Homo sapiens: one gene and its partners. The protein of the gene in region 6 purifies or fractionates together with the protein of the main gene of each other region. This does not show direct contact. Each region holds a gene or a part of one and is shown on either strand. Other genes may lie near its edges.

What was found.
Region 1: the proteins of SLC5A8 (region 6) and GNAI2 purify together in Homo sapiens (affinity purification with mass spectrometry; one large-scale study listed by BioGRID and IntAct). This does not show direct contact.
Region 2: the proteins of SLC5A8 (region 6) and ELOVL4 purify together in Homo sapiens (affinity purification with mass spectrometry; one large-scale study listed by BioGRID and IntAct). This does not show direct contact.
Region 3: the proteins of SLC5A8 (region 6) and FAM241A purify together in Homo sapiens (affinity purification with mass spectrometry; one large-scale study listed by BioGRID and IntAct). This does not show direct contact.
Region 4: the proteins of SLC5A8 (region 6) and CORO2A purify together in Homo sapiens (affinity purification with mass spectrometry; 2 studies listed by BioGRID and IntAct, with this or other methods). This does not show direct contact.
Region 5: the proteins of SLC5A8 (region 6) and LMTK2 purify together in Homo sapiens (affinity purification with mass spectrometry; one large-scale study listed by BioGRID and IntAct). This does not show direct contact.
Region 7: the proteins of SLC5A8 (region 6) and SMAP2 purify together in Homo sapiens (affinity purification with mass spectrometry; one large-scale study listed by BioGRID and IntAct). This does not show direct contact.

What each region holds. Positions count from the first base shown.
Region 1 is NC_000003.12:50,249,704-50,253,203, reverse strand, and holds part of GNAI2 (guanine nucleotide-binding protein G(i) subunit alpha-2), read right to left. Parts: intron 1,585-3,500; exon of another isoform or gene 1,531-1,584; coding exon of another isoform or gene 1,461-1,530; intron 1,105-1,460; coding exon 1,062-1,104; intron 808-1,061; coding exon 666-807; intron 181-665; coding exon 20-180; intron 1-19. UniProt on the Homo sapiens protein: Guanine nucleotide-binding proteins (G proteins) are involved as modulators or transducers in various transmembrane signaling systems.
Region 2 is NC_000006.12:79,916,554-79,920,053, forward strand, and holds part of ELOVL4 (very long chain fatty acid elongase 4), read right to left. Parts: intron 2,995-3,500; coding exon 2,867-2,994; intron 331-2,866; coding exon 55-330; 3' UTR 1-54. UniProt on the Homo sapiens protein: Catalyzes the first and rate-limiting reaction of the four reactions that constitute the long-chain fatty acids elongation cycle.
Region 3 is NC_000004.12:112,151,954-112,155,453, reverse strand, and holds part of FAM241A (uncharacterized protein FAM241A), read right to left. Parts: intron 1-3,500.
Region 4 is NC_000009.12:98,182,638-98,186,137, forward strand, and holds part of CORO2A (coronin-2A), read right to left. Parts: intron 3,053-3,500; exon of another isoform or gene 2,796-3,052; intron 1-2,795.
Region 5 is NC_000007.14:98,193,862-98,197,361, reverse strand, and holds part of LMTK2 (serine/threonine-protein kinase LMTK2 precursor), read right to left. Parts: coding exon 2,790-3,500; intron 1-2,789. UniProt on the Homo sapiens protein: Phosphorylates PPP1C, phosphorylase b and CFTR.
Region 6 is NC_000012.12:101,154,993-101,158,238, reverse strand, and holds the end of SLC5A8 (sodium-coupled monocarboxylate transporter 1), read left to right. Parts: intron 1-837; coding exon 838-960; 3' UTR 961-2,746; downstream 2,747-3,246. UniProt on the Homo sapiens protein: Acts as an electrogenic sodium (Na(+)) and chloride (Cl-)-dependent sodium-coupled solute transporter, including transport of monocarboxylates (short-chain fatty acids including L-lactate, D-lactate, pyruvate, acetate, propionate, valerate and butyrate), mocarboxylate drugs (nicotinate, benzoate, salicylate and 5-aminosalicylate) and ketone bodies (beta-D-hydroxybutyrate, acetoacetate and alpha-ketoisocaproate), with a Na(+):substrate stoichiometry of between 4:1 and 2:1.
Region 7 is NC_000001.11:40,415,227-40,418,726, forward strand, and holds part of SMAP2 (stromal membrane-associated protein 2), read left to right. Parts: intron 1-45; coding exon 46-155; intron 156-949; coding exon 950-1,115; intron 1,116-1,553; coding exon 1,554-1,870; intron 1,871-3,500.

The DNA of each region.
Region 1 (3,500 bases), on a different chromosome or scaffold from region 6:
AGCCCCTCAGAGCACTCACTAGGCAGCTGAGTCGTTGAGCTGGTATTCCCTTGAGCGGCCAAAGCAGGCCTGCACACCATGGTCAGCCCAGAGCCTCCGGATGACGCCGGACAGGTCATCAGGGAGCACGCCTTGCTCCTCGGCGGTGCAGGACAGTGCAAATAGCTGCCTGGCGTCGTCCTGGGCACAGTGGCGGGTGGTCAGGCAGTTGAAGGAATGTACCCCCACTCTGCCAGAGGCAGGGAGACCTCTGGAATGGGGCCCAGGCTAGGGTATTCTTGGATTCCCTAGGATGAGACTTGCCCTAAAACCTTTTTGTTGTTGTTGTTTACTTTTTTCTGTGACGGAGTCTAGCTCTGTCACCAAGGCTAGAGTGCAATGGGGCGATCTTGGCTCACTGCATCCTCTGCCTCCCGGGTTCAAGCAATTCTCCTGCTTCAGCCTCCCAAGTAGCTGGGATTACAGGCACGTGCCACCATGCTCGGCTAATTTTTGTATTTTTAGTAGAGACGCGGTTTCACCAAGTTGGCCAGGCTGGTCCTGACCTCAGGTGATCCACCCGCCTCGGCGTCCCAAAGTGCTGGGATTTATAGGCATGAGCCACCACAACCAGCCACCCCGAAACCTTTTGGGAGGTGGGAGAGGGTGGGGCGGAGGGCACATACCGCTCTGGAGGGGTCGGCAAAGTCGATCTGCAGGTTGCCCATGGCTTTGACAATGGCCATGATGGACTGGATGGTGTTGCTGTAGACAACCGCCCGGTACTGCCGGCATTCCTCCTCGGAGTAGCCATCCTCGTGGATGATCCTGATAGCCAGGGACCAGGAAGGTTAGTGTCCCCTGGGCACTGGGAGTTCCCACGGCTGCCTGGGGCTACTGGGACCTGCTTCAGAGAAGGGAAAACTGCCCCTGACCCACTGGGACCTGAGGGTCCTTCTGCTTCTCAGAAGATTCTGGGCCTGGCTAAGACTGGCTGGGCCTGTAGTCGGGGGCAGTGCAGGCCCAGAGGGTGAAGAGGGGAAGCTGGAGTTTGAGCACTGCCTCTGGAATACAGCACTTACTTCATCTGCTTGACGATGGTGCTCTTCCCTGACTCCCCAGCACCTGGAACAGAGGGCACAGGTGGTCAGGGGGCAGGCCCAGAGGGGCTCCACAGGCACAGAACAAATGCCCAGACACCTGTAGCCCAGGAGGCAGAACTAACCTTCCCACCAGCTGCACCGTGAGATGGAGGCAGCTGGGCCTGGTGGGCAGTTGAGCTACCAGGAATGCAGCTGGCAGGGCCACAGTGGTCAAGGTAACCTAGAGCACCTGTGCCCCATGGCAGACTCTCTGCAGGCCTTTGCCTCCCACAAGCTCTGCTGCCCACCATGGCTCCCCACTGTCCTGGGGGGTCTTGGCTGGAGACTTGGCCAGCCATGAAGGAGCCACCCTGTTCTCACATACATAGGCTCGCCAACCTGTGCAGCTGGTGCATGCCAATATGGTGCCCTGGGCAGAGCTGGCAGGAAGATGCCCTGCATACTCCATCCAACAGGGTAGCAGCCCTTCTTCTCCCCACACTGAGCCTTAGCAACCAGGGGCCTAAGCAGGAGCACAGCGTCACACTTCAGCTTTCTGGACATGGCCCAATGCCCCGCCCTCTGCTCACTGCGCTCAGGTCTGCCCTGAGCAGATGGAGGCTAGAAGGCTAGAATCTAGGAGACCTACAGTGTAACACACACGCGTACTGACTCATGAATCTGGGAGACCTGCGGCGTATCTCACACACCCACACCCACACACGCCCATACTGACTCAAGCTTTTCCCTGGCCTGGTACAGCCCTGGCCCATATTTCTCTTTAGCTGGTACTGAGATTTGCTGCATTCTCTCCTGTATTAGTCACAGCAGATACTGTTTCTGTTCCCATTCTACAGATGAGGACATTGAGGCTCAGAAAAATAAAGTATTGATCTAAGATCATGTAGCCAGGACTCAGAAGGGCAAGAGGGTGGAGGGAACCCATGATGCCTGGTCCACCCTGCCATTCTCAAAATGTGGCTGAGACCCTGCGGGACAATGCCTTGGGGAGGTGTTTAAAAAAGCAGATTCCGCCGGGAGTGGTGGCTCATGCCTGTAATCCCAGCACTTTGGGAGGCTGAGGCAGGTGGATCACCTGAGGTCAGGAGTTCGAGACCAGCCTGGCCAACATGTTGAAACCCCATCTCTTCTAAAAATAACAAAAACTAGCCAGGCGTGGTGGCAGGTGCCTGTAATCCCAGCGGCTCGGGAGGCTGAGGCAGAAGAATCGCTTGAACCTGGGAGGTGGAGGTTGCAGTGAGCCGAGATTGTGCCATTGCGCTCCAGCCTGGGCAACAAGAGCGAAACTTGGTCTAAAAAAAAAAAAAAAAAGCAGACTCCCAGGTCCCATCCCAGACAACAGAGCCAGATCTTGAGGAGTGCAGCCCAGGAGCCTGTATTACCCAGGGAGTCTGTGTAAAGAAGGACCAGGGGGGCCACCCAACTCCCTGGCTGGGGGCCAGAGGGAGTGGAGGCAGGGCCTCACCTTGACCTTGCTCCCTTGCTGCTGGCTTGTCTTGAGCTCCAGGTTGAATGGCCCCCAGCTGGGCCCTGCTGTCCTTCCCAGACCCTGTGCTCCTGCTCCATCACTGCCAGTCACACCTGCAGCTGCCAGGCACTACCTCTAGCTATCTCCAGGGCCCTGCTCATGCTGTTCTCTTTGCCGGGAATACGTGCCCCATGCCCCATTCACAGTGTCCCAATTCTGATCACTGTGGCACGTTTGTTCCTCTGTGCAGCTTAGCTGGGTGGGTAGTAAGGTCTGTGCAGAGGTCAAACTTGGGTACTCTGGCCAAGCTCAACAGCATCCCTTGGGGCTGGTCAAAACAACCTCAGAGGATGAAGGTGCTAACACACAAACGAACACAAGCAGTAACAATAACATCGGCAATATCGACAGCAAAGCTATATGAAAACAGCGCCCACCATGTGCCAGATGCTGCTCTACATCAATGACACCCACCAACTGCCATCTCCACAGCAATCCTGGGAGGTAGGTTCCATTCTCACCCCAATCTAACCAGTGAAGGAACTGAGGTCCAGGGAGGCTGAGGTCACAGGGTTAGAGTCCCCTCTGCAGGGAGCACACTTGCCCACCGTGCAGTCCCTCCTAGAGCTGTCCTAAGTACCTGGTACTGCAGCGGAGCCACACAGTCCACCTGGCACTGGGTTCACTCCCTAGCTCCCCAGGCAGACTCTGGGCCATGTCTGCAGTGCTCAACAAGCGGCAGCAGGCATTGGGACATGGTGGCAGGCCTTGCCAAGGCCCCTGCCCACCTTCAGCCCCCTACGCCAGAGACCACCCTGAGGGGAAAGGCCTGAGCCCTCCTCACAAATGCCATCAGGCGCCTGCAATCACTGAGCTTCTGACTGTCCCAGGCCTGCTTTCCAGGATGAGGGGAGGGGATCTGGGGAGATGGGGAGTGACAGCTAGTTGGG
Region 2 (3,500 bases), on a different chromosome or scaffold from region 6:
ATATGATATGGGAGTTTTTCCTCACTGTCAACAACAGTTAAGGCCCAGTTCAATTTAATCTCCTTTTGCTTTTCCATTTTTCTGCTTTTTTCCATTTTCTATCATGAGTTGTTTTTCTGATTTGCTCACACCATTTGCTGAAATACCATTCATGGCTGTTTTTCCAGCTTTTGGTTTCTTAGGCTCTTTGTATGTCCGAATGTAGAAGTTAAGAAAGAGAAATATGAAGCTGATTGCATAGGCAATTAGAGCCCAGTGCATCCATTTGGGGAAGGGGCAGTCAGTGTAAAGAGACAGTGCCGTGTGCCCAATGGTCACATGGAATTGAATCTGAAAAACAGAAATGACAGCACAAAACATTTAATCTGAATAGTAAACAACTTTTAACAACATCGGCATCTTCTACATAGCTATCACAGGCCCAAATTTTGCCACACTGTGCAAAATTTATTGTTTTCTGGCTCCCATGGCTAGCTCCTCATTCACAACTCAAATGCCATCTCCTCAGTAAGGACTCTCTGACAAGACTTCAATTTCAATTGGCCCTCCCAATCCCATTAACCAAAGAGCTTTCTGCATTTTTTTTAAGGAGAATTATACCTATTTGAAATTGTCTTCTGTATTTGTTATTTCTTTATTGCCTATCTTTCCACTAGAAAATGACTCTAGAAGGCAGGGCTTTGTCTTGCCCATCGGTGATTCTTGAGTCCTCAGCACAGCATCAGGATCAATGAATATGTGTTGAATAATGTTATCTGATGAAAGGGAATCAATGGCCTAGGAGAGTAAAGTAATAGTATTGTAGGCTCTTCAATTTTGTTTTCCTCCCACATTTTACATTGGTTTCTTTCTATCAAATTGTCAGCAAGCAGATACACATACTTAAAATGAGCTTATCAAAATGGCTCATTTATTTCTTACAGATAGTAGGCAGGTAAATTTTTATTTGAACGAACACTATCCTTTAAAAACTAATATTTTGATGGCCAGGTGCGATGGCTCATGCCTGCAATCCCAGCACTCTGGGAGGCCGAGGCGGGTGGATCAACTGAGGTCAGGAGTTCAAGACCAGCCTGGCCAACATGGTAAAACCCCATTTCTACTAAAAATACAAAAAATTAGCCAGGTGTGGTGGTCCATGACTGTAATCCCAGCTACTCAGGAGGCTGAAGCAGAAGAATAGCTTGAACCCAGGAGGCGGAAGTTACAGTGAGCCCAGACTGCACCATTGCACTCCAACTTGGGCAACAAGAGCAAAACTCCGTCCCAAAAAAAGAAAAAAATAATATTTGGATAAAATTTAGTAGATATTTCAGAATAAATACAAAAAGAATCACTTTCAACTTTAAGAATTTTTAAAAGGAAAAAAGCCCAAAGTGAGATGATTAAAATGAAATAGATTCTGATGTATCAATAAAAGAATGGGTCAAGACATAATGTTAACAAGGGTTAACTTTTTATACAATTAACTTATATGACTAACTGTTGTGGGAACTTCTGGCTTGGAAATACAAACTCAACATCCTGTTTGAAATGGACAATTGTGGTTTCTCTTTTAAGGATAGCATTGTTCTTAAAATATTAATTATTGATTAAAATAATCAGTATTACTTATTTTAAATATTAAAATAATGTATGCCATGTAAGCTAAAAATTTATACTATATTAAACTTTTATAATTTTCCTTGGCAAATATTTTAATTTGAAGAACTTGTGGTTTCACAATGGTTTTTAGAAGCTGCATCACCAAAAAGGGTGTGTATAAGGGTGTGATTGGGTATGGCATCACTCAAGGAGAGCCAGGTGTAGGCTCCAACAAACCAGATAGGACTAATTCACATGATTTTGATCACCTCTTCATTTTCTTAGGTCCATTTACTACTTACTGAGAGAAATGAATTACACAAACTGTGTTAACAGCTTTTACACAAAAACTGGAGGAAGCTTCCTATACCACTCCGGTTACAAATGAATCCTTCGCACCCAGCATTTCCCAAAAGTTGTGCTTCCTGTTTGGTTAGCCAGCTGTTTAGCAACTTAAAGCAAAGATGAATATTATTTCCAAATGTGATTCCACTGATAAAATTGTGCACATGCTATGATTAAAGCAAATTATAATAAATTCTAAAGCTTGAAAAATAGTTACCAGGTTGGCTTTGAATTTCCAGTTTGATTACAGGCTAGTGCCTAGCATCTGAAAGGTACACTAATGCACACACTCAGATTGCCACAAACAGTCTTACTAGCGGGATGTGCTGAAAACTGTCTGGACTAAAGACCACCATTTGAAAATATCTGTCTCTGCTCTCTTAAGGACAGTGTTTTAGAGAATTACAAGGAGTTCTCTTGCCCTTATTCCCTTCCTTTGCCCCACCCCTTCCTTGGCTATGTGCTTTCTTTTCAGCTGTTTAGTCTAAATATATGAGATATGTTAAAGACTGAAAAATGAAATAAAAAACAAAATTTTTAAGCAAGGACAAGATGAAGAAAGGTAATAAAATTTTAAGTTAAGAAAATCACCTGTAGGGAAAAAATACATATTATTTTTCTATTCATACTACGTACTTTGTAGCGTGCTTAGATCTTTAATCATCCTTTCCACAAACATCTTTAGAGAATGTTTTCCTTAGAGGAGTAAGGGCTATGTCTAGTCTTTTAAGCATATTATAAAAACAAAGATTTGCTGGGACCAATAAGTCTATGAATAGGTCATCTAGAGTCAAGTGGGCATAACTGCGATATAGCTGGAGGATAAAGTTAATTTCATAATAGAAAATTGTCTAAAATGACATTGCACTTTAAAATTAATCAAATTTAAACAATTTCAGTATTTTACCAGAAGAAACTTTGGAAGCATTTAACTCACCAGTTGCAACATAGTCAGGTATCGTTTCCACCAAAGATATTTCTGAATCCATGGGCCAAATGCAGTTAACCCATAGTATGAGTACATAATCACATGGATAAAGGAATTCAACTGGGCTCCAAAAAATGCTTTAGAAAAACAACAGGTAATTACAAGATACAGAAAATTTTATTAGGCAGTAAGCCACTGAGATGTACAATAAATGAATACACATTATTTTTTAATATTTAATCTTGAGTACAGATTAGAAATGAAAAATATAAAGTAGTACTAATGAAAAAGTTTTCCCTTCAGATTAAGCTAGATATTTTTAAAGTTTAGATTTGAGGTTTTACCATATAAATAAAAATGTATGTTCAAATGCAAAGGACTTTCACAGTTGTAGGTTTTCAAATGGAGTACTCCAGTGAGCTTAAATAGGCCCTTAGAACTGTTGCCTATGTTACTTTTAATTCTACTATTCTTGCCTTTAGATGTGCCAATATATATATCTGCAACAAAACAGTACTTATTTCTTAGGTTTCTAAATAGTTTAAAATATGACAGCACTACACACATTGAATAATTCATTTAATATAGATAAATCTACAGAGATATTCCAGTCAGTCAAACTCAATGACATTCTTTCTTTTCA
Region 3 (3,500 bases), on a different chromosome or scaffold from region 6:
CCCACTAAACTACATAGACCCAATAAAAGAAAAAAGATTTTTTTGAGGGGATGGATAAAAACAATGAGAATATCAACTAGAACTTAGTCTTTGAAATGATTATAAACAGAAAAATACCAAAATTTGCATTCATTTTTCATTTTAACTACCGGGCTTCAATATTTTTAAAATTATAAGTCATAATTGCAGACACACAAATGAAACCACCAGGTAGTCAAAAAGATACACTCAATTTCAGTAATATCTAACAGACGTATTGGAACAGCTGCCTATTGTAGAGAAAGAAATGGTTATGCAATGGAAAAATAATTAAATAAGAGAAGGGCTTTTCATGAACTAATGATATATAACTGTGGGCCACGAACTCAAGAATATGCCTAACTCAAGCCTCTTTTTTTGTGGCGGGGGAGGGTGGTGGGCGCAGACGGAGTTTTGCTCTGTCGCCCAGGCTGGAGTGCAGTTTGCGATCTTGGCTCACTGCAACCTCTGCCTCCTGGGTTCAAGCGATTCTTCTACCTCAGCCTCCTGAGTAGCTGGGATTACAGGTATTCCCCACCATACCCGGCTGATTTTTGTATCTTTTTGGAGAGGCGGGGTTTCGCCATGTTGGCCAGGCTGGTCTCGAACTCCTGGCCTCAGGTGACCCGCCCACCTCAGCCTCCCAAAGTGCTGGGATTACAGGCATGACCCACCACACCCTGCTCAAGCCTCTTTCTGATTTCAAACTGCAGGTTAAGACATTTCTACATTTTATACTTTTTCAAGAATCTACTTTTTTAAAAAAAAATATGAAATCTCTGGTGACATTACTTAGTACCTTGCATATGCAGGACAATATGCTAGATGCTACTACAAGATGGGTAAACTTATCCATTAAAAGTAGCCAGGCTGGGCACGGTGGCTCATGCCTGTAATCCCAGCACTTCGGAAGGCCAAGGCAGGGAAATTGCTTGAGGCCAGAAGTTCATAACCAGCCTGGGCAACACGGCAAAACTCCATCTCTACTAAAAATACAAAAATTAGCCAGGCATGGTAGTATGCACCTGTAGTCCCAGGAACTCGGTAGCCTGAGGCACAAGAATTGCTTGAACCTGGGAAGTGGAGGTTGCAGTGAGCTGAGATCCTACCATTGCACTCCTGCTTGGGCAACAAAGGACTCTGTCTCAAAAATAAAAAAATAAGAAATAAATTTTAAAAAATAAAGTATCAAACTTAGGGGAAAAAAGTAGTCAAAATCAAATATCTCTCCTGAAAAATGACTTTCCTTCTCAATTCTCAATTTGTGGCAGTGAAAATTTCGCTTCTGCTGTTATTACCTCTAAAACTCATGGAATAAGAAATCCTCAATTCAGTCAGACTGATGGAATTTGCAATCATGCAACATCAAACTTAAATTCCCTACCTCTGTAGGCCATCTGCAGACATTCAAGTAAAATTTAATTAAGAGGATACAAAACAAAAATTAAATTATTTTGGATTAATTGGAAGAGGAAATAAAAGAAATTCTCAAACACAGATATTTAAAAAGTTACATGAAAATAAATACTGTAAAAACCACAATGGGAATTTAACTTTCTTAACATTATGTTTAGATATTAAGTATTAATGATAATTTTATCCTTTATTTTCCATAAAGTTAAAAACATTTGTACCATGCTTTCCTTTTGATTAGAACTCTGATAAGCTGCAGTTGTTGCCCTAAGAAAACAGCAAGAAATAAAGCCAATCACTTCCTCTTCCTATGCCAAGATAAGACTCAGCTGCCAATGAAGTTAAATGGCTGGGGGCGGTGCCGGGGGAAACACTGGGTATGGGGAAAAAGATCAGAAGATAGAAAGTATCTTCTGCATCAGGTTGGTTAGAAACTCGGTTTATCTGCTCAAAAGAAGCTACATTTCAAATGTCTTATTAATTCTCTCAAACACACATAAACACAATGAAATAAAACATAACTAGTAGGAACAAGGTTTTCGGAGATAGGTGGCTGTTACTGGAAGATAAGATTATGACTCCAGAAAAGACAGAAAATGAAGACAGTGTTGCTAAGTCTTAAAGAACACATGAATAGAGACACAGAATTTCTACATATTTCTGTTACAGCAAGACTGATGTCATGGTACTTTGAGTTTTTCCTTTTAATCTTGCCTTATCACTTCTTTTGAATAGGAAACTGAGAATAGTTTGTACAGAGGAGGTGGGTATTTTTCCTCTCAAGGATTAGTGAGCAACAAGGGGGAAAAGAAACCAACTAGAGATCTACATAAAAAACAACATAATTTAGGTTGACAGGTTTAATTTTTTCTTTAGAGATTGTCTATTCTAAACATTAGATACATTGTTTCACAATCTTAACACTTTGTTCAATAAATATTCTATAAATTTGAGAATTACATGTACTAAAAACACAGTTCTATGATGTGTTAGTTGAGGGAAATAAGGGGAGGAAAACCAGAGAAAAAGAAGAAAAATAGAAAAGGTGAGGGAGAAATAAGGAGCAAATATTTATTGAGTGCCTCCATGTGTTAGGCATTTTACATACAAAATGAGACTGAATCCTCATAAAAACTTTAAGAGGTGGGTAGCATCATACCCATTACAAATGAGGAAATTGAATCTCTGACGGATTAAGTAATCAGGATCACGGGGGCTAATAAAGAGTAAAACCGGGATTCAAAATTAGATCTGTCATACTTCAACCCCCTTTTCATTGTTTCATAATGCTCAGCTTCTGCACTGAAGTGGAAGAGGTAGGGGAAGATGTATGCAGAAGAAGAGAAAGTGGTTGAGATGCGTGGGGAGGGAAAAAACACATGAGAGAACGAGACTCAACAGAGACAGAAAGGAGATGGGTGGTAGGAAAGAAAGGCAGAAAAGGAATGTGTGAGAAAGCAAAATACAGCAAGTTGCATACGAGGAGCTGCTAGAAGAGACACAGAGAAAAGTTTGAAATTCTGTTTAAAATACAGGTTTCAAGCAAATAAACAATTTTAACCTATCTATTGGAATATCTATTATCAGAGTAATTACTTTTGACAACTCAAAGGACTGTAACCCTTACATATTTTGAATATTGTTTCTCAACTTTGGCACTATTGAAATTTTGTGCCAGATAATACTTCGCTGTAGGGGACTATGGCATTATACGATGTTTACCAGCATTCCTGGCCTTTTCCTATTAGATGTCAGTACCACCTCCTTAGTTTCAGCAATAAAAAAATGTCCAGACATTGTCAAATGCCCCCTATGGACAAAAGGCCCCCAGTTGAGAACCACTGATTTAGAAGTTCCAGTCTGGATGATTTAAAAAAATGAACAAAAGATGCCTATCAAATGCAAAATTATTCCCTGAGTTACTCTAGTGACTGGATGTCCTTAGGAACAAGATGAGATTAAGTTAGGGCAGAATTCAACTAAGCTCATAGCACTTATTACAATATTGCTTGCAAACTGCTTTTAAAATACGTGAAAGGAAGTGAGTATAAACTAATATTTAGTTTTGA
Region 4 (3,500 bases), on a different chromosome or scaffold from region 6:
CAGCTTTGCCTCTTGCTGGCTGCGTGACCTTGCAAATTTACTCAACCTCTCTGGGCTCCTGCCTCCTTATCTGTAAAAAGAGGACAAGACTATCTAGCTACAATGCGATGGTGAAGATTCCATGAGTGAATGCACACTAAGAGTCTAATTGGGGACCCGCCACATGTCAAATGATTCCAAGACAGCTTTTTACATTTTAACATCTCTGAAACTGGGATGCAACTTACAGTTTCTGTTGCTTTTTCTTTCTTAATGGATTCTAAAATAAGGGTACATCTCACAACAGATAAGCCCTGCCTTGAATGAAATACCGCAGTAGCTTAGATTCTTTACTTCCCTTGCAAAGAGGCTGAAACGCCTGTGAGATGGGATCAAAGACCAAGAACACAAATCGTTAAGGGACAAGGGTCTATTGAGGCCTAGCATTCACCCTGGATCTCCAGAGCTTCACGGAATTTGAAGGCTCAGGCCCTTCCCCGGCCTGGCGCCCCTCTGGATCTGTCTCAGCTGTCCTAGTCTTGCTCAGAAAGCGGCCCAAACTTCAGCAGGACCCTCACCTCTGCCTCCAACCCTCTGTTGCTACTGATGTGGTAGGTTCCACAGTTGGACAGTTTGGTCACAATGCTACTGTGCTTGCAGCCACCCAAAACCCCAAGTCTTTGTCCCAAGAAAAGAGTCCTAGTTCCCACCTTCAGAAACCCCCACAGACATCTCCTCCAGTGTGACTCCATCAAGCCATCCTTGGACTCTGCTCCCAACTGTTCCGAAGGCCAGCACTGGGGATGTCATCCAGGCCTTACCAAAGTCCTTATGCTGTGAGTGCTGACTTCATCCCTGCAGCCTGCTGATGTCAGACCGGCCTGAGTATTTTATTATCTAAATATCATTATAACTTGTATTGCATACATAGTTGGCCCTCTGTATCTGTGGGTCCTGCATCTGTAGATTCAACCAACCTCAGATGGAAAATATTCGAAAAAATTAAGGAAAAATAACAATACAACAATTAAAAAATACAAATTTAAAAATACAGTACAATGGGCCAGGCATGGTGGCTTGCACCTGTAATCCCAGTATTTTGGGAGGCTGAGGCGGGCAGATTACTTGAGATCAAGAGTTCGAGACCAGCCTGGCCAACATAGCGAAACCCCATCTCTACTAAAAATGTAAAAAATTAGCTGGGTGTGGTAGTGCATGCCTGTGATCCCAGCTACTTGGGAGGCTGAGGCACAAGAATCACTTGAACCCGGGAGGCGGAGTTTGCAGTGAGCTGAGATTGTGCCACTACACTCCAGCCTGGGTGACACAGCAAGACTCTGTCTTAAAAATATGTATATACAGTATAATAACTAGTTACATAGCATTTACATTGTGTTAGGCATTGTAAGTGATCTATAGATGACTTAAAGTATACAGGAGGGTGTGTGTAGGTTACATGTAAACACTATACTATTTTATATCAGGGATTTGAATATCCACAGATTTTGATATCCTTGGGTGTCCTGGAAGCTGAATATTTAGGAATGACTGCACACATATCACCAAAATCTTTACAGAAATAAATTATCTATCAAGTATAAAATTATTTTATTTTATTTTTTTTTTTAATAGAGGCAATGTCTTACTTTGTTGCCCAGGCTGGTCTCAAACTCCTGGCTTCCCAAAGTGCTGGGATTACCAGGAGGAGCCACCATGCCCAGCCAAAACATTTTAAATGTAGAAAAGACCAAAGAAAACAAAATTCTACCACCTAGTGATAATTAGCTTGATGTCTGTCTGAATATTTTGCTATGTCTGCATGCTAGGGAAAGATTCTTTTCTCATATCCAAACCCAAACAGTCTCATTCCACACATACTACTCTTTCTCTTACCGTGACATGGTGGCCCTCTCTCTAAACAGACTGGTTTCTTCATGGCGGCCCCACAGTGCTCCCGTCCTCTATCCCTATCCCTGGCAGGTCCCAGGCCTCTACAGGGACGTAGTGCTTTGGGTCTGACGTTGTTCCTCCTCATCCTCAGAGTGGGGCTGTGATCTGTGATGGGGCCATGGCTGCCTTCGGGGACCCCACCAAACAAAGCCACACCCAGGCACAGAAATACTCCAGAGCACTTAAATCAAGGGGTGTGTGGTTAATGGCGGCTGTCTGTCTCTGTCCGATTTGATTGTAGCCCTTTCAAAACCAACTGAAAGTTCTCCCAGCCCCAGATGCTGGCCTGATATTTCCCTAACCCCTAGGGGCTCCAGAAATCACAATGAATAATGAATAGGTAGGTGCCTGGCATTTTGTAGTTCATAAAGCGCCTCCTTACTTTTATCCAATTTAGAGCCTTACAACAAGCTTATACATTAGGCAGAACAGGTATTTATTATCCTCATTTTATAAATGAAGAAACTGACGCTTAGAGAAGTGGAGTGACTGACCCAATATCTTCCCTTATTTTTCTACCCTTCATAGTCTGGCCGTCTCCAAATCACACTAACAACCCAGCTCAGGCATCAGCTCCTCTAGGGAGCCTTCCATGACCCCCCACTTCCACCCCAGGCTGGGTTAGGTGCCCTCCTGGAGGCCCCACAGCTCCTGGGCTTCCCTATGATAACTGTAGTGCCCCTGCCAGGCCATGGGCCCTCACGGCTGTGATGGGTCTAGCTTGTCTGCATTCACACTCCCCAAGCATTAGAAAAACATCAATAGGTGGTTGCTGGGGTGAAGATCATTACAATGACTAAGGCAGGAATTATTCTTCCCCTTTTACAGATGAGGACACTGAGTCATAAAGAAGGGTCAAGACTTGCCTAAGGAGCATATCAGCAGCGGGGTCAGCTCTCCTTCTTCAGAGGCCTGGGTTCTTTTGCTCCACTGCATCCCTTGTTGTCCGCAATCTTAGACTCCAAACCATTGCTGGAGGCTCGTATCTGATTTCTCAGGCAGGTCTACCTGGTCAGCCAGGTGTGAAAGGGAGGTTGGCAGGAGGGGGCTCTGTCTGCAGTGGGCTCAATTCCCCAGCCTGGGCCAACACCGTGGTGCAGCCTTAGGAACAGCCACAGGAGTTGCCCAGTTATTGAGCACGCCATAGACCACGCCCTGTGCAAGAACTTCCCTTGCACTTCTTACTTCATCCTGTGGCTGGGGCCGTTATGATGCCATTTTGCAGGTGGGCCAGGAGAGACCCTGGCCCAAGGCCACTCAGTGTCTGAGATGGGGCTAGAAGCCAGGGCTGCATCCCTGGCAGCAGGCAGCCCCAGGAGTTTGCTGGCACCAGAGCCAGAAATAAATGCACAGTCAGAGTACAGGAGACAACTCTCAGGGGACCTGCAGTGTGGGCAAAGCCCCAAACTCACCTCCCACCCAGGGCTGGCTAGAGGGACAAGACTCTTGGGCCCAGGGAACACACGCCTGCCCCTGCACTGCCTGTGGGCAGGGTCATGCCATTTGCCAGGGCCCCTACAAACTCCAGGCTCAAGGCCAGGCTAGAAGCAGCTGTCATATCAACCCTGCAC
Region 5 (3,500 bases), on a different chromosome or scaffold from region 6:
TGCTCGGTCCAGGAGACTTGGGTCAAGCCCTAGCACTGCTACTCACTGGGGCCAGACCCTGTGCAAAGTTTACCTACTCTGAGCCTCAGGGTCCTCTCCATGAAGATGGTGACAACCACCCCCACATGGGGAAGCAAAACAAGACTCAATGTATAATAAAGGTGCTGGCACCCACAGACTGTTCACCAGCCTTTACTACTTTACACGGTAAGTGCTGGTTAAGTATTTGCTGAACTGACAAATAGTAATATAACCAAGAAACAATTGCTGCCCAATCCCATGAACACTCAGTTAAAAGTTTGGAGCCAAGATACTTCAACTGCTTAAAAACTACACAACTTCAAAACCAGCTCATTAAAAAAGAAAGCAGGAGTGGGAGGAAACCCTCAGTCCTCGGCCTGAACGCTTGGTGGCTGTCGCTTCAAGGCATGCTGCATGAGACGCATAAGCAAACGAATTTCAGATCATCAGAAAGATCTTCCTCATTTTCTTCTGGCCCTGACCCACCTTCCGACTTTCTCCTTGACACTAACTTCCTTGTCAAAGCCTCGCGTCCATTAAGCATGTCTGGTATTTGATCTCTGTACCTTCCATCCCATAACTAGAGTGCCCTTGTCACAGATCTTCATCTTTTGCAATTCTGTCTTCTAAAGTCAGAAAAACATAACATCCTCCACAAAGACTTGTGCAAGGGGCCCATACTCTGCGGCCCCAGGGAGTTTTCTCCACAGGCTGCTTCCACTGGGACTGCGTCCCTCTCACTACTCCAGCTACCCCCAGGCTTTCAGGAAGTGGGGACAGCGTGCTCCCTAGCTCCTAACCGCACTGCTCACCGAGCACAGTTGACAGTTCCGTCCCACCTATACATTACCCCATCCATGGAGAAATGCAGCGATAATCCAAGTTCACAGAGACGGTGGAGAAAGGGCTATGTGGATGCATTGAAAACAAAACACAAACCCGAGGGGCCAGGTGATCCCTTCTCCCTTCCACTCTTACTAGAAAACGGCAGCGTGTTTTCTCAGGCTCCCTGAGCTCAGAGGCTCCTGAGTTCGAGATCTGCCTAGGAACCACCTGGGGAATGAAAAGAGAAAGACGGCCTCCTGGCCCCTCGCAGAATCAGGTTCAAGAGGTCAGGCTGAGCTCAGGAGGCTGCTTTTTTTTTTTTTTTTCTGAGACAGGTCTCACTCTGTCACCCAGGCTGGAGTGCAGTGGTGCAATCTTGGCTCACTGCAACCTCTGCCTCCCAGGTTCAAGCAATTCTCATGCCTCAGCCTCCCAAGTAGCTGGGCCTGCAGTCTTGCCTACCGTGACTGGCTAATTTTTATATTTTTAGTAGAGATGGGGTTTCGCCATGTTGCCCAGGCTGGTCTTGAATTCCCGACGTCAGGTGATCCGCCCACCTTGGCCTCCCAAAGTGCTGGGATTACAGGCATAAGCCACCGCGCCTGGCCTTACTTTTCATTTTTTAAACATCCACTTCCCCGCCATATATGCTATAGCTCAAATGCGGGTGATTTAACGATTTTTAAAGAAACATCATAAAAACCAAAGTGAACAGAACACAGAGGAACAAGGCATAAAGTGACGTTCAACAGACGCAGCTCCTGGGGGAGGAGGTGGAACAGTGCTTGGACCCGCCATAGCCACGGACCCATGAGGGATGGTGCCACGCAGGGGCTGAGACCAAGGTCTGGGTTCCCAGAATGGAGCAAAAGGGAGGGCAAGCAATGTGAAGGAGACGGCGAGGACTCCTGCGCCTTCTAGAAGGTGAGGGGACCCCATTTTCATGTCCCACCACTGAGCTCTCCCAACAATCCAGCTGATGCAAGCAGCAAATTCAAGGGCTACAAAGACTAGTATGAAAAGAACTTTTTTTTTTTTTTTAAAGCATGCTTGAATTATCCGCTGTTACATTTTTAAAGGAGCCTAAATCCATGCCCACTCAGCAGTGCACACTAAGCTGCCTGCTCCAAAGCAGGGAAAGAGGACAGGTCAGGGGACAGAGCAGAAGGACCACAGACGCTCCTGCTGTGTGTCACACCCTCCAGACACCCACCGCAGGGCTTCTGGTTGGCCCCTCTCCTGAGCTGTCTCCAGGGCTGCACGCCAGCCATGGTTCCAGGCTTGTACCCAAGTGGTGGGTCCTACTGCCAATTGTCAGGCTCTAAAAATTGGAGGCCAAGCGCAGTGGCTCATGCCTGTAATCCCAAAACTTTGAGAGGCTGAGGTGGGAGGATGGCTTGAGCCCAGGAGTTTGAGAGCAGCCTAGGCAACATAGCAAGACCGTGTGTCTACAAAAATTAAAAACAAAACAAAACAAAAAAAACACCAAAACCTTAGCCAGCCATGGTGGCATGAACCTGTGGGCCCAGCTATTATGGAAGGTGGGAGGATCACTTGAGCCCAGGAGTTCAAGGCTGCAGTGAGCTGCAACTGTACCACTGCATTCCAGCCTGGGCCACAGAGCAAGGCTGTCTCAAAAGAAAAATAAAAAAGTAAAACAGTAAAAATTTGGTGTGTAAAGGGTGACTAATTCAGGAAGACTCCATTAGAAGACCCAGGAAGAGCATTCGGGTCTCTTTCTCTTAATTTAATACGAACTCCCTGAGCAAATGACATTTCTGCATATTCTTAGAACTCTAACCAACCCCAAATTACTTTTTGTGAGTAATCACAATCTGCTGCCTCAAAATGGCAACTAGAAAACAGACCACACTCAATTTCCTAGCACATTTTGGAATCCTTATATGGATGTGTATAGAAAATGATTTAGAGGGAACAGATACCTGGTCAAACAGGTAGACTGTGACATCATCGAAAAACGTGACTGCCTTCTTTTCCTTCTTCCAGTCCTCGGGCAGTGGGTCGGGGGCATTGGCCGCTGTGGGCTTCAACAGACTCCGCAGGTGCCTTCCGTCCTCGTTGCTGAGGATGATGGGCACGGGGTGCTCGGTCTCGTCCTCCGACTCGGAGCTGAGGCTATGCAGGTTGAAGGCCCGCAGGTCCTCGTCCGAGTCGTCGCTGTTTTCGTCCTCCTCGTCTGCATCCATCCCGTCCTCTGAGAGGTCGAGCATCCCTGACACCCCGAGTTTCCCCAGGTACTTCCCTTCGATGTCCGGCTCCTTCAACTTCGGGCCCTCGGAGTGGCTGGACAGGGACTTGTCCAGCGCAGAATTGGTGTAGGCAAGGAGTTCGTTCGTGTTGGTCCCCGTGGAAGCGAGGGTGCAGGGGCGATCGTCCTGTGTCTCGAAGTCATCGCCGCTGCTAAGTTCTGCATTCAGCACACTCCAGGGACTGCTGGCCTCGTCTTCCGTGGGATGCACCTGCTGGGGAACACCAGTCTGTGCTGGCTCCGGCGTGGCTCTTAATTCCAGGTCACTGGAGTTGTGCAAAGCAGACAGACAACTTTCATCTGGCTGGCTCTTTCTGGCTTCCAGGCAGCTATCCTGGGCAGCAGGACTTTGCTCGGGGAGGACTGGCTCGGGTAGGGGCTGCTC
Region 6 (3,246 bases):
TTTCATTTACCTTGAGTTAGGAAACTGGGCTTTATTACCTGGATAGAACACTAATTAGTTCTCAACCTCTTTCTTGAAAAGTGATGGACAAGGAAGGTATAGACCCTATATAATCTGATGATCTATATATGTTGGATAGCTCTCTATCCTATGATGATCTATATCTGTTTTATAGCTCCATATCCTCTGATACGCTATACCTATTGCTTATCTGTGTATCCTCTGATGAGCTATATCTGTTGCATATCCTCTTTCCTTTGATGATCTTTATCTGCTGTATATCTCTCTATCCTCTGATAACCTATATCTGTTGTATATCCCTCTATTCTCTGATGAGCTACACCTGTTGTATATCTATCTCTCTCTATCCTCTGATAACCTATATCTGTTGTATATCCCTCTATTCTCTGATGAGCTATACCTGTTGTATATCTCTCTATATCTGTCTATCCTCTGATAATCTATATCTATTGTATCTCTCTCTATATCTGTCTATCCTCTGATAACCTGTATCTGTTGTATATCTCTCTATATCTGTCTATCCTCTGATAACTTATATCTGTTATATCTCTCTATATATCTGTCTATCCTCTGATATTATAAATCTGTTGTATATCTATTGTCTGATGGGCTATTTTGTATCTATCTTCTGATAACCTGTATCTGTTGAATATCTCGGTATCCTCTGAGGAAGTATACCTGTTATATATTTCTCTCCCTCAGTAGATTAGAAAGCTGATGCAGAGAAATAAAAATAGTAGAAACAATTATTTAGAATTACATGAATGAAGAGCTTCTTTTTCTCCCCCTAATCACCATGTTAACATTTTCTTTTAGAAGAAGCATGTTTTGAGCTATAAATCACATCCAGTGGAAGATGGTGGAACTGATAATCCTGCTTTCAACCACATTGAATTGAACTCAGATCAGAGTGGCAAGAGCAATGGGACTCGTTTGTGAAGCTGCTCTGATACTAGATATCCTTAAATGATGTTTCAATTTTATATGTTTTCTAAGATAATTGGATCAGGTTTTCTTTGTGTGTGTGTGTGTGTTGTATCATGAGTGTTTGGGGGATAAGTTTTTGTTAAAACAAAGTCTGGACTATCTTCATTTACTACATCATTAATTGATGTTACTCTGGAGTTTAGAATTCTGGCATTGACATTTCCCTCTCTTTCCTTTATTTCGATGAAGCTATAATTGTGAAAATTGTAACTACATAGATGCTGAAAGGCTAATACACACATATGCACATGTATTTGATTGTCAAAGGTATATTCTTAAATTTGGGTATTATTGAAAATATTTTCCATGCCTTGGTGCTAGCATATAAGTTTGGAAGTTTGCCAACATCACAATTCATCTTGAAAAGAGCTTTTTTCCCTCCTACCACATACACCATTCTTAGGGAGCAATGAGGTAACAGGTCTGTGTTGTCTAGATCTTTGCTTTTTATCCCCCTATCAGTCCAGGGCATATACTAACCTGCAAACTGATTCTGAATCAGGAAGGTGGTAATCAATAAGTATTCTGGCTGGGAAAGACCGTGGGCCCAATGATCAAAGTCTTCTTGGTGCTGTTCATTAATTCTTGTGCCTTTTGGCTTGTTTTCTAGAGTTTCTGGGCTTTGGCTGCTGATACTGCCTTTCTTAGACTGTAATTTTTATCTGCATGCCCAGTTTCTGACCTATCAACTTGGGTTTTATTGTGCACTCTAACTGAGCTTGTCTTCATAATTTTCTGTTTATTGCCCTGGGCTTGGATATGTCTCAAGACACTCATGTGAATCATGCCACCCCAAATCCTGGCTTATCAAGTCCCAGACTATAAATTATGAACTCCCATTAGCTTGGTACTAACATATACTTGATGTAGGTATTTATGGACTTGATGATCCAAGAATATTATATTCTTCAAAATGGTTAAGCTCCATGGAGTTAGATGACTACACTTAATGCTATTAAGTTGAACTTTTGAATGTCAACTAATTTGCAATCAATTAAAGATACATATGCCTAGAAATTTTGAAATTTCGGTATATTTATCCAGTTAAAGGGCTAAATTATATAAGCAAACACTACTTTTTTTAAAACGTCTGGACTCAAAAAATGCTTTGTTCCATGTTTTAAAATTTTTAAGTAGCAGTCTCAAAGTTGCTTAGCTGTTTATTTTGCTATGTTCCTAGCTAAGAGTTTGGTTATAGGAGTTCATCAATAACTTATTTTTTGTACAGTTCCCACATTAGATACTGTTTAAAAGTTCTTTTTTAAACTCAATTTTTTTTAGAAACATAAGAGAAATATTTAGATACATACAAATGTTTTTATGATTAAATAATTTTATGCTTATTTTCTGATACGTGTTATTTAGGTAATCATGCCCTGTACATTTAGAGGTTGCTAACTGACAATGTTAAGAAATTTAAAAAAAAAAAAAAGCCTGGGCATGATGGCTCATGCTTGTAATCTGAACATTTGGGAGGCTGAGGCAGGAAGATCGCTTGAGGTCCAGAGTTTAAGTCCAGCCTGGAAACATAGTTAGACCTCATCTCTACAAAAATAAAAAATAAAAATAAAAAAAACTTAGCTAGGCATGTTGCCACATACTTGTAGTCCCAGTTATTAGGGAAGCTGAGGTGGGAGGATAGCTTAAGCCCAGGATTTCAAGGCTGCATTGAGCTATGATTACACCACTGCACTCCAGCCTGGGTAACAGAGTGAAATCTTGTCTCTGGGAAAAAAAAAAAAAAAAAAAAAAAAGAGAGAGAGAGAGGGAGATTTATATAACATTTAAATTAACTGCATAAACCTGGGCAATGTTCAAAACTCCATCTCTACAAAAAAACACAAGAATTAGCCAGGCACGGTGGTGTGTGTCTGTAGTCTCAGCTACTTAGGAGGCTGAGGTGGGAAGATTGCTAGAGCCAGGAGGTCGAGGCTGCACTGAGCTGTGATTGCGCTACTGTACTCCACCCTGGGTGATGAAGCCCTAACTCAATAAATAAATAAATAAATAAATAATACAAATAAATTAACTATATATTCATGTATTTCTTATGTGGATATATGTTATTTTTTTTTCCTGCTTTTCTTTTTTTTTATTTTTTTATTATACTTTAAGTTTTAGGGTACATGCGCACATTGTGCAGGTTAGTTACATATGTATACATGTGACATGCTGGTGCGCTGCACCCACTAACTCGTCATCTAGCATTAGGTATATCTCCCAATGCTATCCCTACCC
Region 7 (3,500 bases), on a different chromosome or scaffold from region 6:
GCTTAATAAGCAGTGCTGCATCTTAACTTCGATCTCTCTTTCTAGATGCTCCTGTGGCCTGCTCCATTGCAAATAGTAAGACCAGCAATACCCTAGAGAAGGATTTAGATCTGTTGGCCTCTGTTCCATCCCCTTCTTCTTCCGGTTCCAGAAAGGTGAGTCTTGTGGGCTCCTCAGGATTAAAGAACATTCTGAAATGGGTGATTTTGATATCTTAATCATGGAACCACGTCATGCTTCCTTGGTGGAGTTGGACTTTGGTTTTCTTGATTCTTCATTCTTCCCTTAACATTGTGTCATTTCTGTCACAGTCTAAGATTGCTGTTCATGCCTTTTTTTCTCCTGCTCAAAAAGGGTGGGCCATTTGAGTTGCTTCTCTGGAAAGTGTGTGATACTGTGAAGGCTGATACTTGAGGCTAGCTCCTCGGCCTGAGTTACTGCCAGAAAATTGTAGGTAGGAAAGACTTGAAACCTTTAATGGCTACCATTCGTGAAACGCCTGCTATGTCTCAGGCACAGTGTGAGGTGGTTTTTGTATATCATTTTGTATATTTCATTAATAATTTCACTCCTTCACCACAAACCTGCAAAGTGGAAATTTTACAGATGTGGAGACATTAGTTTGTAAAAGTTATGTGACTAGCCTGTGGTTATACTAGTAAATGGCTACACTGGGGTCTAAACTCAGTTCCCTCTGCTGCATCATTTGTGGGTTGTTTTGTTTGTTTGTTCCTACCAAATCACATGTTTTGGTGAAAGGAAAGAATTGTAACAGAGCTTAATTATCAGGTGTGTTCAGATAGTTGAATGGTAAAAATGTTAGGAAGCTATTAACTTGAGCCATGAATTCTTATTGCAGATGTTAGGAGCAGCAGAGAGGGAAGGGAGACCCTTAAAGAGACCCCCATGAGAACCATTTCAATTCTCCCCCCGCCCTCTTTGCCCTAAGGTTGTAGGTTCCATGCCAACTGCAGGGAGTGCCGGCTCTGTTCCTGAAAATCTGAACCTGTTTCCGGAGCCAGGGAGCAAATCAGAAGAAATAGGCAAGAAACAGCTCTCTAAAGACTCCATTCTTTCACTGTATGGATCCCAGACGCCTCAAATGCCTACTCAAGGTAGATTTCATGGGTGTCATGGCCATGTGCCAGGTAGAGACATGAGGGCTTCCATGCAGGAATTATTTATTGTGACAGAGGACAGTTGCTTTGGGGGCCAGGATGTCATACACCAAACAAACCTGAACATGACCAACGTATCAGCAGATGGAAATTAATGTAACTCAGAGTCATACTTCTGTGGAGTCTGGGGTCACAATTCGGTGAAGTCTAGCTCAAGGTCTGGATCTGGACCCTAAAGGGAAAATGGCTCGGTCAGCAGCCCATTGGTAAGCTATAGCAGGCCTCGTAGGGACTCTAACTACTTTGCTGTGTAAAGAGCATTGTGAGTAGAGTAATCCTGAGAAATTCCAGCTGGAAAGGGTTAGCCAGGGAGAGTTCGGGCTGACTTTATGTTTTTCCCTCTTTAACCAACCTGTATGTGTGTTTTCTTGGCAGCAATGTTCATGGCTCCCGCTCAGATGGCATATCCCACAGCCTACCCCAGCTTCCCCGGGGTTACACCTCCTAACAGCATAATGGGGAGCATGATGCCTCCACCAGTAGGCATGGTTGCTCAGCCAGGAGCTTCTGGGATGGTTGCCCCCATGGCCATGCCTGCAGGCTATATGGGTGGCATGCAGGCATCAATGATGGGTGTGCCGAATGGAATGATGACCACCCAGCAGGCTGGCTACATGGCAGGCATGGCAGCTATGCCCCAGACTGTGTATGGGGTCCAGCCAGCTCAGCAGCTGCAATGGAACCTTACTCAGGTAAGCTACCCCATTTTACTTGCAGCAAGAGTTTTGAGCCTTCCTCAAGTTTTTCTCGGTTTGTACCTCTCCACTATCCTTTGAATCCTTTCCATGTAGATGAGATAATGTAAGAGACATTGTTAGGTTTGCTTTTTTTTTTTTTTTTTTTCCTAGAAGGTCTGTCTAAAGTCAGACTTTCTGAGGAGTTCTGGGCTCCTGTAGAATAAGCCCAACTGCCTAAATCTGAATCTCTCCACACATTCTCAAAAGCAAAAACAAACACACAAAGAAACCCTGTACAAACAATGAATGCAGATATTCTCACAACAATCTCATTTGGTAGACAGAATACTGCAAGGTTCAAATGGCATGGCAATGGGCATATAAACACCAAATCCAGCGGAGCCAGCATCACAGAGGAGACTGTAAAAAGAGAAGATGGAGCAGGGGCCTAGCAATAATACCACAGATAAAGTAACCCCCCAGAAGGAGAAGGACCTACCCTCATCAAAGACATACTGAGAACAGGTCTGAGATGTGGTAGATTAGAACTCTGTTTACTTGGAGGATCAAAAATAAGAGACTTCAGATATATAGGAGTATAGGTAGTAACCTTGGGAAAGCATTGCTTCTCGGGGAGATGGGCATGGCCTAAAAGGAGGAGGTACCCTTTAGAGGACTGGTGGTGAAGGAAAGAAAGACACGAGAAATGGGAATGAGAATCACAAAATCAAATATACACCTTCTTCCCTCTTCCAAAATAACCACTTCACTAATAAAAGATGGTGCTCTTAATCTAAGAAATTTAGTAAGCCTCCCCAAACCTTCACACCTATTATTGCTGATTGAGAAAAAATAAGACCTTACAAAAATGAACCAAACATGGAAGCTGACATTTGTACACAACTACTACAGGAAGAAAATAGAAAATGAAAATCAAAACATTTCACGTAATGAATATTCTCCCTCAAAAAACAGTCATGAAGCAGAAGAAAATTGTTACACAATCTACCAATCTGAATTAAATGTCCTTAAACATTTGCAGATAAGACAAAACACCTTAAATCAGAAATTCAAAAACTTAAAGCCAAAATGGATAAAAAACTGCATGCTGTGAAATGAAAGTTTACTAAACTCAGAAAAGAAATTGAAGAAAAAGCCAAAATTTTCGTATAAAGACTCAATTACAAGTTAGCTAAAGAACAATAGATTGAGCTGAAAATATATTCGGCATTGAGGAAAGGCATGAAACAGCTAAGAGAATGAAAACTAAATATAGAAAGTAGTAAAAAGAATTAGATGGAAATTAATATGGAAGTTAGGCAAAGAAAACTTACATATATTTGGAGATGCCCAAAGAAATAAAGACAAAATAAATAAAATATGGGACAGTATTAATGTGTTTAACACCAGAAAACATTCTAGAAATAAAAGACTTGGATATAATATGGAAAGAGCCCACTGTGTGTCTGGGAAAATTGACCCAGAACAGTCAACTTTAAAACATATCCCAGCAAATCTACAGACTTTAAAGAACATTCAAAATGTTTAGGGGTCCAACCTTTTCCATACCTCCTACCCACAAAAATCTGTTACTTAGAACAAACAAAAAATACCCAGGTTGACATCAGACTTCCTAGCAGCAAAA